Regions from separate parts of the Homo sapiens genome. Here region 2 is linked to region 1. The links come from fine-mapping of genetic effects on gene expression. A gene starts in region 1. The other region holds a variant in brackets. All regions are shown on one strand. Distances are from middle to middle. Region 1 holds the start of GYS1 (glycogen synthase 1). Region 2 overlaps FTL (ferritin light chain).

Region 1 (5,407 bases):
TTTGTGTTTTTTTTTTTGAGATAAGATCTCATTTTGTCCCCCAGGCTGGACTGCTGTGGCCTCCACCTCCCAGGCTCAAGCAATCCTCCCACCTTAGTCTCCCAAGTAGTTGGGACTACAGGTGTGTCCCACCACACTTGGCTAATTTTCTTCTCTTTTCTTTTCTTTTTTTTTTTTTTTTGAGACACAGCCTTACTCTGTCACCCAGGCTGGAGTGCAGTGGCGCGATCTCGGCTCACTGCAACCTTCGCCTCCCGGGTTCAAGCAATTCTCCTGCCTCAGCCTCCAGAGTAGTTGGGACTACAGGCATGTGCCACCACGCCCGGCTAATTTTTTTTGTATTTTTAATAAAGACGGGGTTTCACCATATTAGCCAGGCTGCTCTCAAACTCCTGACCTCATGACCTGCCCGCCTCGACCCCCCAAAGTGCTGGGATTACAGGTGTGAGCCACCGCACCCGGCCTAATTTTCTTATTTTTTTGTAGAGACAGGGTTTCGCTATGTTGCCAGGGCTAGTCTTAAATTCCTGGGCTCAAGCAATCCTTCTACCTCGGACTCCCAAAGTGTGGGATTACAGGCGTGAGCCACTGTGCCCAGCCCACAGGTCTTTCTTCTCTTCTTCCCCTAGAGAGGACATGCAGTTATCCAGCCCAGAGGAAGCCTCCTCCCTCTGGAGCCAATCGTTTAGACTTTCTGGCCATCAATGGTCACAAGCTTTCCCTGTCACTGTGTGAACCTTCCCACCTACCGTCTCCTATAGGAAGCTGGAACCCAGGAGCATAGAACATTACCCCCAGACTACAAGCAGAAGACTAGGCATCCCCACCCCACAAAAAAGACATGAATCCAGGAATCCCAAATGTAGCTCTCTCAACATAAACAGGCCCCTTACCAAGGACTGTCTCCTATAAAGACTTTCTCTTTCATCATAAGTCTCTCCAAAACCTTGCTGCCCGCTGTTCCCATGAAAACCAAGGTCATTTCAAAACTCAGCACACACCGTCCCCTCATACTTCCAATACTTTCTCCACGGTAGTTCTGGTCATAGCCTTCCTCTTCTACTTCCCTATCCACCTCCTCCTCCTCCTTGCCCTGGTGACAGCAACAGACTCAAATCTCATCCCCAGCTACCAACAACTTTCTCCCCCTCCCTTCCTCCATCTTGACTGGGCTCATCATGGAAATTGAGGCACCTGTAAGCCCAGCCCAGTCCCTAAGTTCAGGTCACATTACCTTTTTTTTTTTGGAGACAGAGTCTCGCTTTGTCGCCCAGGCTGGAATGCAGTGGCGCGATCTTGGCTCACTGCAACTTCTGCCTCCCAGGTTCAAGCGATTCTCCTGCCTCAGCCTTCTGAGTAGCTGGGATTACAGGCCTGCACCACCACACCTGGCTAATTTTTGTATTTTTAATAGAGACGGGGTTTCGCAATGTTGGCCACGAACTCCTGACCTGAAGTGATCCGCCCGCCTCGGCCTCCCAAAGTGCTGGGATTACAGGCATGAGCCACCACGCCAGGCCAAAATCGCTTCTTTATTCAGGTAATTGAGCAGGTGCCAGGCCAAGTTTCCTGGCCTCTCCTTCATTCACATGTATTCATTCATTCAAATATTCAAGTGATAATTTATTGAGCATTTACACTGAGACGTAGCCCGTGTGAAATACTGGAAATATGAAAATGGCCAAAACGGTAGCATGACAAGATCCCGATTTCTGGGTCCCTAATCCTTCAGTCCTCTCCACTAAGACTCTCTTGTTCCTCGACAATTTCTTCCCACTAAAGGCTCACTAGGCGCCCTCGCGCTCTCAGACACACTGAACAGGTACCTGCCTGTGCTTCCAGCTTGGAACTCAAGTGCCATTGGCACCACTAACAATCCAAGGCTCCCAAATGGCTCGAAGCGCAAGGTCCTACAACCCTCCTCATCACACACTGGCGCCAAGGACTGCGGAACCGGCCGTTGCGCCAAGATGATTTTGAAAGTTGGAGTTCCTATAGCATGATGGGGCCAGACCCGAGATTCTGGGATCCCAGCCCCCTCCCCGCCTCAGATCCAGAAGTCCAGCCCCCATGTCCCCTTCTCCCCCAGATCTGGGTGGCCGAGCTTCCTCCTCTTTCAGACCCAGGAGTCTGAACCCCCAGATCCCCCCTCCCTCAGACCCAGGAGTCAGGGCCTCCAGCATCCTCCTCTCTCAAACTCGAGACTGCTAGCTCGCTCCTCACCCTCCATGCACCCACACTTACAACGGTTGCCATGATGCTCACCAACTGCCAGAGTCCTAGCGGAAACGGAAACGCGCGAGGAGCGAGATGTTCTGGCTCCTCTAGGCTAGCTGGTTCTTCAAAGATCTCGATGGTTCCTCATAAATATGTAAATATTGTGGGGGCGTGGCGGGACTTTATGCCCCGCCCTCCCACCGAGGCTGCGCTGGAAGACGGGCGTCCGGAACTCCTGGGTCCATTCCCAATGTCTCCTGGCTCCTCCTCCTTTTGCTCAGCCCCACCACCGCCCCGCTCAGGCCGATTGCAAAATTCTTAGCTGTTCTTTGAGTAACCACACGTCCTCCACGCTCCTTTCCTCTTTATCCCACCCTCCTCCTCCTCCCCACTTTGAGGCCTCCAGCTCCAGATTGACAGAGCTGAAGGCCACTCGTTTCCGTAAAGCGCAGCGGCAAGCTCCGCCCCCTGGAGGTCTCACGGCCGAGGCGGGGCCGGGACACAGCGACTCCAACCCGTTCCACCAATGAGGACACGCGGAAATCCCCGCCCCCGGGCGTGGGCCAATGGCGCTGGCTGGGGGGGGCGGCCACCGCCTCCTGGCGGCTGCGAGGTTTCACTGCAGGGGCGCCAGTGGGCTCAGTGACGCTGCGGCCTCCTTCTGCCTAGGTCCCAACGCTTCGGGGCAGGGGTGCGGTCTTGCAATAGGAAGCCGAGCGTCTTGCAAGCTTCCCGTCGGGCACCAGCTACTCGGCCCCGCACCCTACCTGGTGCATTCCCTAGACACCTCCGGGGTCCCTACCTGGAGATCCCCGGAGCCCCCCTTCCTGCGCCAGCCATGCCTTTAAACCGCACTTTGTCCATGTCCTCACTGCCAGGACTGGAGGACTGGGAGGATGAATTCGACCTGGAGAACGCAGTGCTCTTCGAAGTGGCCTGGGAGGTGGCTAACAAGGGTGAGCACGCCAGGCGTCGGGGCCCTTGACGAGAAGGACAGTAGTGGATGGGGGCCCGGAACTCTGAGTTGTAGGAGGACGGGGCTACTAGGGGAACCCTTGTGACCTGGGCAAGGAGGCTGTGTCCTTGAGGAGGGGCTGGGAAGCCGGAGGTGGGTGGGAGAGGGATGGTTCGTTTGACTTAAGATGAAAGGAGGCTGGAAGCCCGGGTTCTGGGTCCTAGGGAAGAGGGCGCTAAAATGAGACTCCTAGGTCCTGGAGGCAGGCTTCCGAGAGACTAGATACCTGGGTCCTGAACAGGGAAGGGGATGGGGGGATGGGATTTCTGCGTGCAAACCTGGGAAGCTGCCGGGGTTTCAGACCTATGACCCTAACAGCATGGTCTAGGGGATAAAACTCCAGATTTGAGAGAGAGCTGACTGGGAGATAGGAGGCCTGAGCGGCGGTGGGAGGACCTGAGGATCTGGCTGCTTAAGAATAAAGATGGGACGGGCTGGAGACTGTAATGAATGCCTGGGCTTTGAAGGAGCTGAGGGCCTGAGCTATTAGTTCCTAGGAGTAGAGGAGCCCATGGCCTGGGACACATGCGTACTGGAATAGGGGAAGGCTGGGAAGTCCTAAGTTAGTCAGAGGCTGGGCCCTAGGATGGGAGGGGCTAGGAGCCTGCATTTCTGTGTCTTGGGCTTCAGAAAGCTGAGGTTCTGGCCTTGGAGAAGGCTGGGGCTGAAATCCCCAGGAACAAGCCAATCTCACACCTCAAAGAGCAGGGTCTGGGGGGTTGCTTTGCTGGGTCTTGGAGGAGAAAGGGACTGTGTCTCCCAGGAGGAGAGGGGGCCCGTGAACACCCAGCCGGGTATCGCCAGGGCCTGGGCTCCAGGATGGGAGGAGGCTGGGGGCTGGGGCTCCTGGGTCTGGGATAGGGTCATGGGAGAGGCAGAGCCCTGCATGCTGGTGTCCCTAGTCAGGGAGAGGAAATTGGGAGGCAGGTCAGCAAGGTCCCTGGGGGCAGGGAATGACCATGCAGGCTTCTCTTGGGCAATGGTGAGAAGCTGGATTGGCCATGAGGGGGTCTCCCTCACTGGGTTTTGGAGCCTGGCTGCGATTTAAACCCAGCTCCTGTGAGCTGGGAACTCGGGAACCTGAGTCCGGGTAGTCAGTCCTCAGCTCTGCCATCCTTAGAGCCCCAGTGCCTAATTCCTTCAGACCAAGGGGTCCCGGCACCCAGCCCCTTCTCTCTCAGACCCAGAAGTCTAGCCTGAGCCCCCTCCTCCTTCAGGGTCCTGACCCCAGCCCCCTTCTCCCTTAGACCCAGGAGGACTGCCCTCCAGCCCTCGTGTTCCCCTCATCCAAGCTTCCAACCCCTACTCCAAACTATGGGCTCCCAGTCCCCTCTTCCCCCTGAGCTAGAGGTCTGGGGCCTGAGTGCCCCCTACATCCCCGGCCCACCCCACCCCAGGCCCCAGAACTATGGACCTCGGCCGGGGCCTGCCCTCACACGCTTGGGCCCACAGTGGGTGGCATCTACACGGTGCTGCAGACGAAGGCGAAGGTGACAGGGGACGAATGGGGCGACAACTACTTCCTGGTGGGGCCGTACACGGAGCAGGGCGTGAGGACCCAGGTGGAACTGCTGGAGGCCCCCACCCCGGCCCTGAAGAGGACACTGGATTCCATGAACAGCAAGGGCTGCAAGGTGGGACGTGGCCCAGCCCAGGGCAGAAGCGGGTGGACAGCCTGCCATCGGGGTGGGAGCCACAGACGGAGAGGGTGCAGGGTGGACAGCCCCAGCCAGAGAGCGAGGCAGGCTTGGACACAGGAAGGAGGCGTGATAGGACACCCAGACAGATGCAGGGCCTGGAAGTGGGTGGGTGGATCCCAGACATGGGCGAATGGACAGACAGATGGCAAGTATGAGACAGACTGAGACGGAGATCCAAGAGGCCAAGGTCCTCAGACCCAGAGAGAAAGAGAGCAAGATCGAAAGACAGCCTGGTCAACATGGCGAAACCCCGTCTCTACCAAAAATACAAAAATTAGCTGGGTGTGGTGGCGGGTGCCTGTAATCCCAGCTACTCGGGAGGCTGAGGCAGGAGAATCGCTTGAACCCGGGAGGCGGAGGTTGCAGTGAGCTGCGATTGGGCCACTGCACTCCAGCCTGGGCGACGGAGCGAGACTCTGTCTCAGAAAAGAATGCCAGCCAGCCAGGCAGAGCTGGGGAGAAGTGGGCCTGAGGT
Region 2 (5,322 bases), 25 kb after region 1:
GGCGGTGTTGAGGCGTCTATTGCGATTAAGACGGTAGGCGATGAGGGAAGCTAAGTGGGTCTCTCTCCTGCCTTCCCGCAGCTGAGTGCACGGTTATGGGAATCCCCAGTATCTCCACCAATCTCTCCGGCTTCGGCTGCTTCATGGAGGAACACATCGCAGACCCCTCAGCTTACGGTCAGCGCCCAGGCCCCTGAGGATTCTGGAAGGGGGCTTGAGAACAGTGACTCCTGGATCCTGGGAAGGAGGAGCTTGCACCCTTGGAGACCAGGGGCACCAGGAAATGGGGGGGCTCTCGGGCCGCTGGGAGAGGAGGGGTCCTGGTGCCACAGAGTCCTGGAGACCATGAAGATCTCCCCAGGATGTTTTCTGAACCTGGGTCCTGGCCTCCACAGGTATCTACATTCTTGACCGGCGGTTCCGCAGCCTGGATGATTCCTGCTCGCAGCTCACCTCCTTCCTCTACAGTTTCTGTCAGCAGAGCCGGCGGCAGCGTATCATCCAGCGGAACCGCACGGAGCGCCTCTCCGACCTTCTGGACTGGAAATACCTAGGCCGGGTAGGACCCCCACTTTCCTATCCTCTCCTGGCAAATCAGCAGCTCCTGGCTAGGGGTCTTTGGTGCAGGGTGCAGGGTCTCATCCTACTTGTAACAGTTGCTGTCCCTTTAAGCAATGAACCAGGCCGATCGCGATGGTGGCTCATGGTTGTAATCCCAGCACTTTGGGAGGCCTAACAGGAAGGATCGCATGAGCTCAGGAGTTAAGAGACCAGCCTGGGCAACATTTTATTTTTACTAAAAATAAAAAAAAATCAGCCGAGCGTGATGGTGCGTGCCTGTAGTCCCAGCTACTGGGGAGGCTGAGGTGGTAGGGTCGCTTGAGCCCCGGAGGTTGAGGCTGCAGTGAGCCTTGTTCAAACCCACTGCACTCCATCCTAGAGTAACAGAACAAGACCGTGTTTAAAAAGAAAAAAAGAACATTGGTCAGGCGTTCTCATTTGCATAAGGGTGTGGCCAAAGAGGAGACTCACTTGAGAATTCGGCCCCTGTTTGAGGGGTATGGCTCAGAAACTGTCCATTCACAGGTCTGCTTATCTACATAAGGGGTGGAGTCAGATAGATGGATTATTTGTATGGGGTGCAGCAGTGTGCTCATCTGCATAAAGGGTGTGGCCAAGACCCCCATCATCTGCCTGGGGGTGGGGCCTGGCTCTCACATCCTCTGCCCCCTCTCCTCCTTTCCCCTAGTACTATATGTCTGCGCGCCACATGGCGCTGTCCAAGGCCTTTCCAGAGCACTTCACCTACGAGCCCAACGAGGCGGATGCGGTGAGTGGACCCTGGATTTCTGCTTAGCCAGGAGCTAAAGGGCTGGGCTTCGGTGGGGTGGGGGTCCCTCCTGGAGTGGGAAGGCCTAGAGGTGGCTGGATGCCTGGGTGGGACTGTGAGGTCCTCAGCTCACCCTGGTTTGCACCCACATCGCCGTATGCAGGCCCAGGGGTACCGCTACCCACGGCCAGCCTCGGTGCCACCGTCGCCCTCGCTGTCACGACACTCCAGCCCGCACCAGAGTGAGGACGAGGAGGATCCCCGGAACGGGCCGCTGGAGGAAGACGGCGAGCGCTACGATGAGGACGAGGAGGCCGCCAAGGACCGGCGCAACATCCGTGCACCAGAGTGGCCGCGCCGAGCGTCCTGCACCTCCTCCACCAGCGGCAGCAAGCGCAACTCTGTGGACACGGCCACCTCCAGCTCACTCAGCACCCCGAGCGAGCCCCTCAGCCCCACCAGCTCCCTGGGCGAGGAGCGTAACTAAGTCCGCCCCACCACACTCCCCGCCTGTCCTGCCTCTCTGCTCCAGAGAGAGGATGCAGAGGGGTGCTGCTCCTAAACCCCCGCTCCAGATCTGCACTGGGTGTGGCCCCGCAGTGCCCCCACCCAGTCCGCCAAACACTCCACCCCCTCCAGCTCCAGTTTCCAAGTTCCTGCACTCCAGAATCCACAAAGCCGTGCCTTTCTCTGGCTCCAGAATATGCATAATCAGCGCCCTGGAGTCCCCTGGGCCTGGACCGCTTCCCAGAGGCCAGGAATCTGCCATTACTCTGCGGTGGTGCCAGAGGTTTTAGGAAACCTGGCATGGTGCTTTCAGGTCTGGGGCTTTTAGAGCCCCCCGTGTGGCTTACAAATTCTACAGCATACAGAGCAGGCCACGCTCAGGCCCGGCATGCGGGCCACCAAGTTCTGGAAACCACGTGGTGTCCCTGCGAATGGGGCGATCAAGTCCAGAGCCGGGGCACTTTCAGAGTTTGAAGGTAACTGAGAGCAGATGGTCCTCCATTTCAACTCCAGAAGTGGGGCTCTGGGAGGGATGTTCTAGCCCTCCCTGGCATGTCAGAGCCAGGCTCTGCCTGGAGGATCCCTCCATCCGGCTCCTGTCATCCCCTACACTTTGGCCAAGCAAGAGGTGGTAGAACCACTTGGCTGCTCATTCCTTCTGGAGGACACACAGTCTCAGTCCAGATGCCTTCCTGTCTTTCTGGCCCTTTCTGGACCAGATCCTACTCTTCCTTTCTAAATCTGAGATCTCCCTCCAGGGAATCCGCCTGCAGAGGACAGAGCTGGCTGTCTTCCCCCACCCCTAACCTGGCTTATTCCCAACTGCTCTGCCCACTGTGAAACCACTAGGTTCTAGGTCCTGGCTTCTAGATCTGGAACCTTACCACGTTACTGCATACTGATCCCTTTCCCATGATCCAGAACTGAGGTCACTGGGTTCTAGAACCCCCACATTTACCTCGAGGCTCTTCCATCCCCAAACTGTGCCCTGCCTTCAGCTTTGGTGAAAGGGAGGGCCCCTCATGTGTGCTGTGCTGTGTCTGCACCGCTTGGTTTGCAGTTGAGAGGGGAGGGCAGGAGGGGTGTGATTGGAGTGTGTCCGGAGATGAGATGAAAAAAATACATCTATATTTAAGAATCCCAGGTGTGGTCAGACATGACACTTGGTGGGCCTGGCTGTGACGTCCCCCCAGT[A/G]CCACCCCTTCCCTGGTCTGAGCTCATCCTCTTATTCTAGAGAGACTTGGGGGGTCTCCCTATGTTGCTTAGGCTGGTCTCAACCTCCTGGGCTCAAGTGATCGTCCTGCCTTGGCCTCCCAAAGTGCTGGGATTACAGGCTTGAACCACCCTGCCCCAGACCCAGGGGAAGGAGAAGGGGAAGAGTCAGAGCTGACACAGCAGTTTTGCAGCTTGGACACAGCAAGTGCTTTTTAAGGCCTGTTTTAAGCTTCTTCAGTTCCCATTTGGAGAATCCGGCCCAAGGTTTCACATCCCATTTCTGTGATGAACCCTAAACCCCTTGTCCAGCATTGCTTGGGCATCACGTGTTCCTGGCTGCTCAGCTCCACTGGCCAGTTCCTCTCAGTGTGCGCCTCACATTGGGATCACTCAAGCTCGGGCCATAATCTCTTAAACTCTGGAGCAAAGACCTCAGTGAGCCCCCCGGTTGCCATGCAAGTTGCATAGCAATAGCGTCAATGTGCCCATATAAAGGGCCTAATAATTCCAACTGCCTCCCAGAATTGAGGCTTTTTTCTTTTTTGAGACAGAGTCTTACTCTGTTGCCCAAGCTGGAGCACAGTGGCGCCATCTCAGCTCACCGCAACTTCCGTGAGGCAGACATGTTTTTTGTTTGAGATGGGAGTTCCACTCTTTTTGCCCAGGCTGGAGTGCAATGACGCCATCTCAGCTCACTGCAACCTCCGCCTCCCAGATTCAAGCGATTCTCCTACCTCAACCTCCTGACTAGCTGGGATTACAGGTATGAGCCACCACACCCAGCTAATTTTGTATTTTAGTAGAGACGGGGTTTCTTCATGTTGGTCAGGCTGGTCTCGAACTCCTGACATCAGGTGAGCGACCCACCTGGCCCCATAATCACTCGTTAAATAGGGCTGTTTCTGGCTGAGACCTAACATCTGTTTCTAGATACCAACCTAGGTCTTAATTCAACTCCCTGGAGTCTATCTCTACCATCTGGGAGGGACAGTTAACAGCCAGGCAAGCAGAGAACCCTCAGGTTCAACACTACCCAGATAGCCTCTTGTCTTAGGACAGTTAAGAAAATGGGAGATGGGGCCAACTCCTCTTTCACTGGCATCCCAACCCAGCCAGAAGCTTTATGAGAACAGATCCCACCTCATCTTCCACACCACACACAAAACCACCAGCTGCATCAAAAAGCTTTATTTCCATTTGGTCCAAGGCTTGTTAGGATAGTTAAGAAAGCTGCCTATTGGCTGGAGGGAGAGGCTTAGGCAGAAGCCCTATTACTTTGCAAGGGGCCCTTCAGAAGTCGCTGGGCTCAGAAGGCTCTTAGTCGTGCTTGAGAGTGAGCCTTTCGAAGAGATACTCGCCCAGCCCAGCCTCCGGGCCACCCAGCCTGTGGAGGTTGGTCAGGTGGTCACCCATCTTCTTGATAAGCTTCACTTCCTCATCTAGGAAGTGAGTCTCCAGGAAGTCACAGAGCTGAGAGAGAAGAGGGAGAAATTAGAAACCCAATCCCTGGAAAAGAGGGGGAGAGAGCAGCCAGTTGCAGATTAAAATGTGACAGGTGTGAAATGAGGCTCTGAAGGAAATTTGCCCAAAGGGAGCAGAGGCTTGAGGGGTATGGTTGGGTAGCCATGGATGCAGCGGGTACGTACATGGGGGTCCGTGCGGGCAGAACCCAGGGCATGAAGATCCAAAAGGGCCTGGTTCAGCTTTTTCTCCAGGGCCATGGCAGCTTTCATGGCGTCTGGGGTTTTACCCCACTCATCTTCAGCTGGCTTCTATATAGAAGGGAGAAATGGCTCAGAATACACACACTCGGCACATAGAACTAAACCTACATTTCCCAAGAGTCGTTGGGGGTCAGAGGCCCAGGCCACAAAGACATGTGACAGCTTGTATTTATCACTCTCCGCACCCTGTCCTAGCTCTTACAGCTATACGTCCCTAAGACCACGCAGCGGTGTGGACTGCCGCGTGTTGTGGGCACTGCACGAGGTGCGCCTCTATTTCCAGCGGTTAAGAGGGCTCACAAGACCGAACTCAATCTCCCAGAAGCCCACGCGACACCTACGCCCTCAAATCAAGGCTCCTCGCGCGCACGGCCTGCTGGGAGATGTAGTCCATTACCCACACACTAGTTACCTTGATGTCCTGGAAGAGAGCGCGGCCGCCACGCTGGTTTTGCATCTTCAGGAGACGCTCGTAGCCCTCGCGCTTCTCCTCGGCCAATTCGCGGAAGAAGTGGCTCACGCCTTCCAGAGCCACATCATCGCGGT

The links.
Region 2: its variant is fine-mapped to the expression of GYS1 in whole blood (INTERVAL, PIP above 0.99). The same link has a PIP of 0.9 or more in blood mononuclear cells.

The regions. Positions count from the first base shown.
Region 1 is chr19:48,990,761-48,996,167 of GRCh38, reverse strand. GYS1 (glycogen synthase 1) reads left to right here and starts at 2,859. Exons shown (of 16, transcript NM_002103.5): 1 at 2,859-3,173; 2 at 4,685-4,866. The coding sequence starts at 3,056. RUVBL2 (RuvB like AAA ATPase 2) reads right to left here and starts at 2,281. Exons shown (of 15, transcript NM_006666.3): 1 at 2,245-2,281. The coding sequence starts at 2,256. RefSeq lists enhancers at 2,383-2,472, 3,163-3,302 and a silencer at 2,593-2,952.
Region 2 is chr19:48,965,783-48,971,104 of GRCh38, reverse strand. It overlaps FTL (ferritin light chain), which reads right to left. Exons shown (of 4, transcript NM_000146.4): 2 at 5,189-5,322; 3 at 4,699-4,824; 4 at 4,226-4,522. The coding sequence ends at 4,370. It overlaps GYS1 (glycogen synthase 1), which reads left to right. Exons shown (of 16, transcript NM_002103.5): 13 at 82-177; 14 at 396-559; 15 at 1,250-1,330; 16 at 1,494-2,975. The coding sequence ends at 1,817. Among named protein-coding and RNA genes, the nearest start is that of FTL, 3.1 kb to the right of the region's middle. RefSeq lists a cis regulatory region at 1-277 and enhancers at 254-781, 2,547-2,776. The variant A/G (reference allele first, on the strand shown) is at 3,032.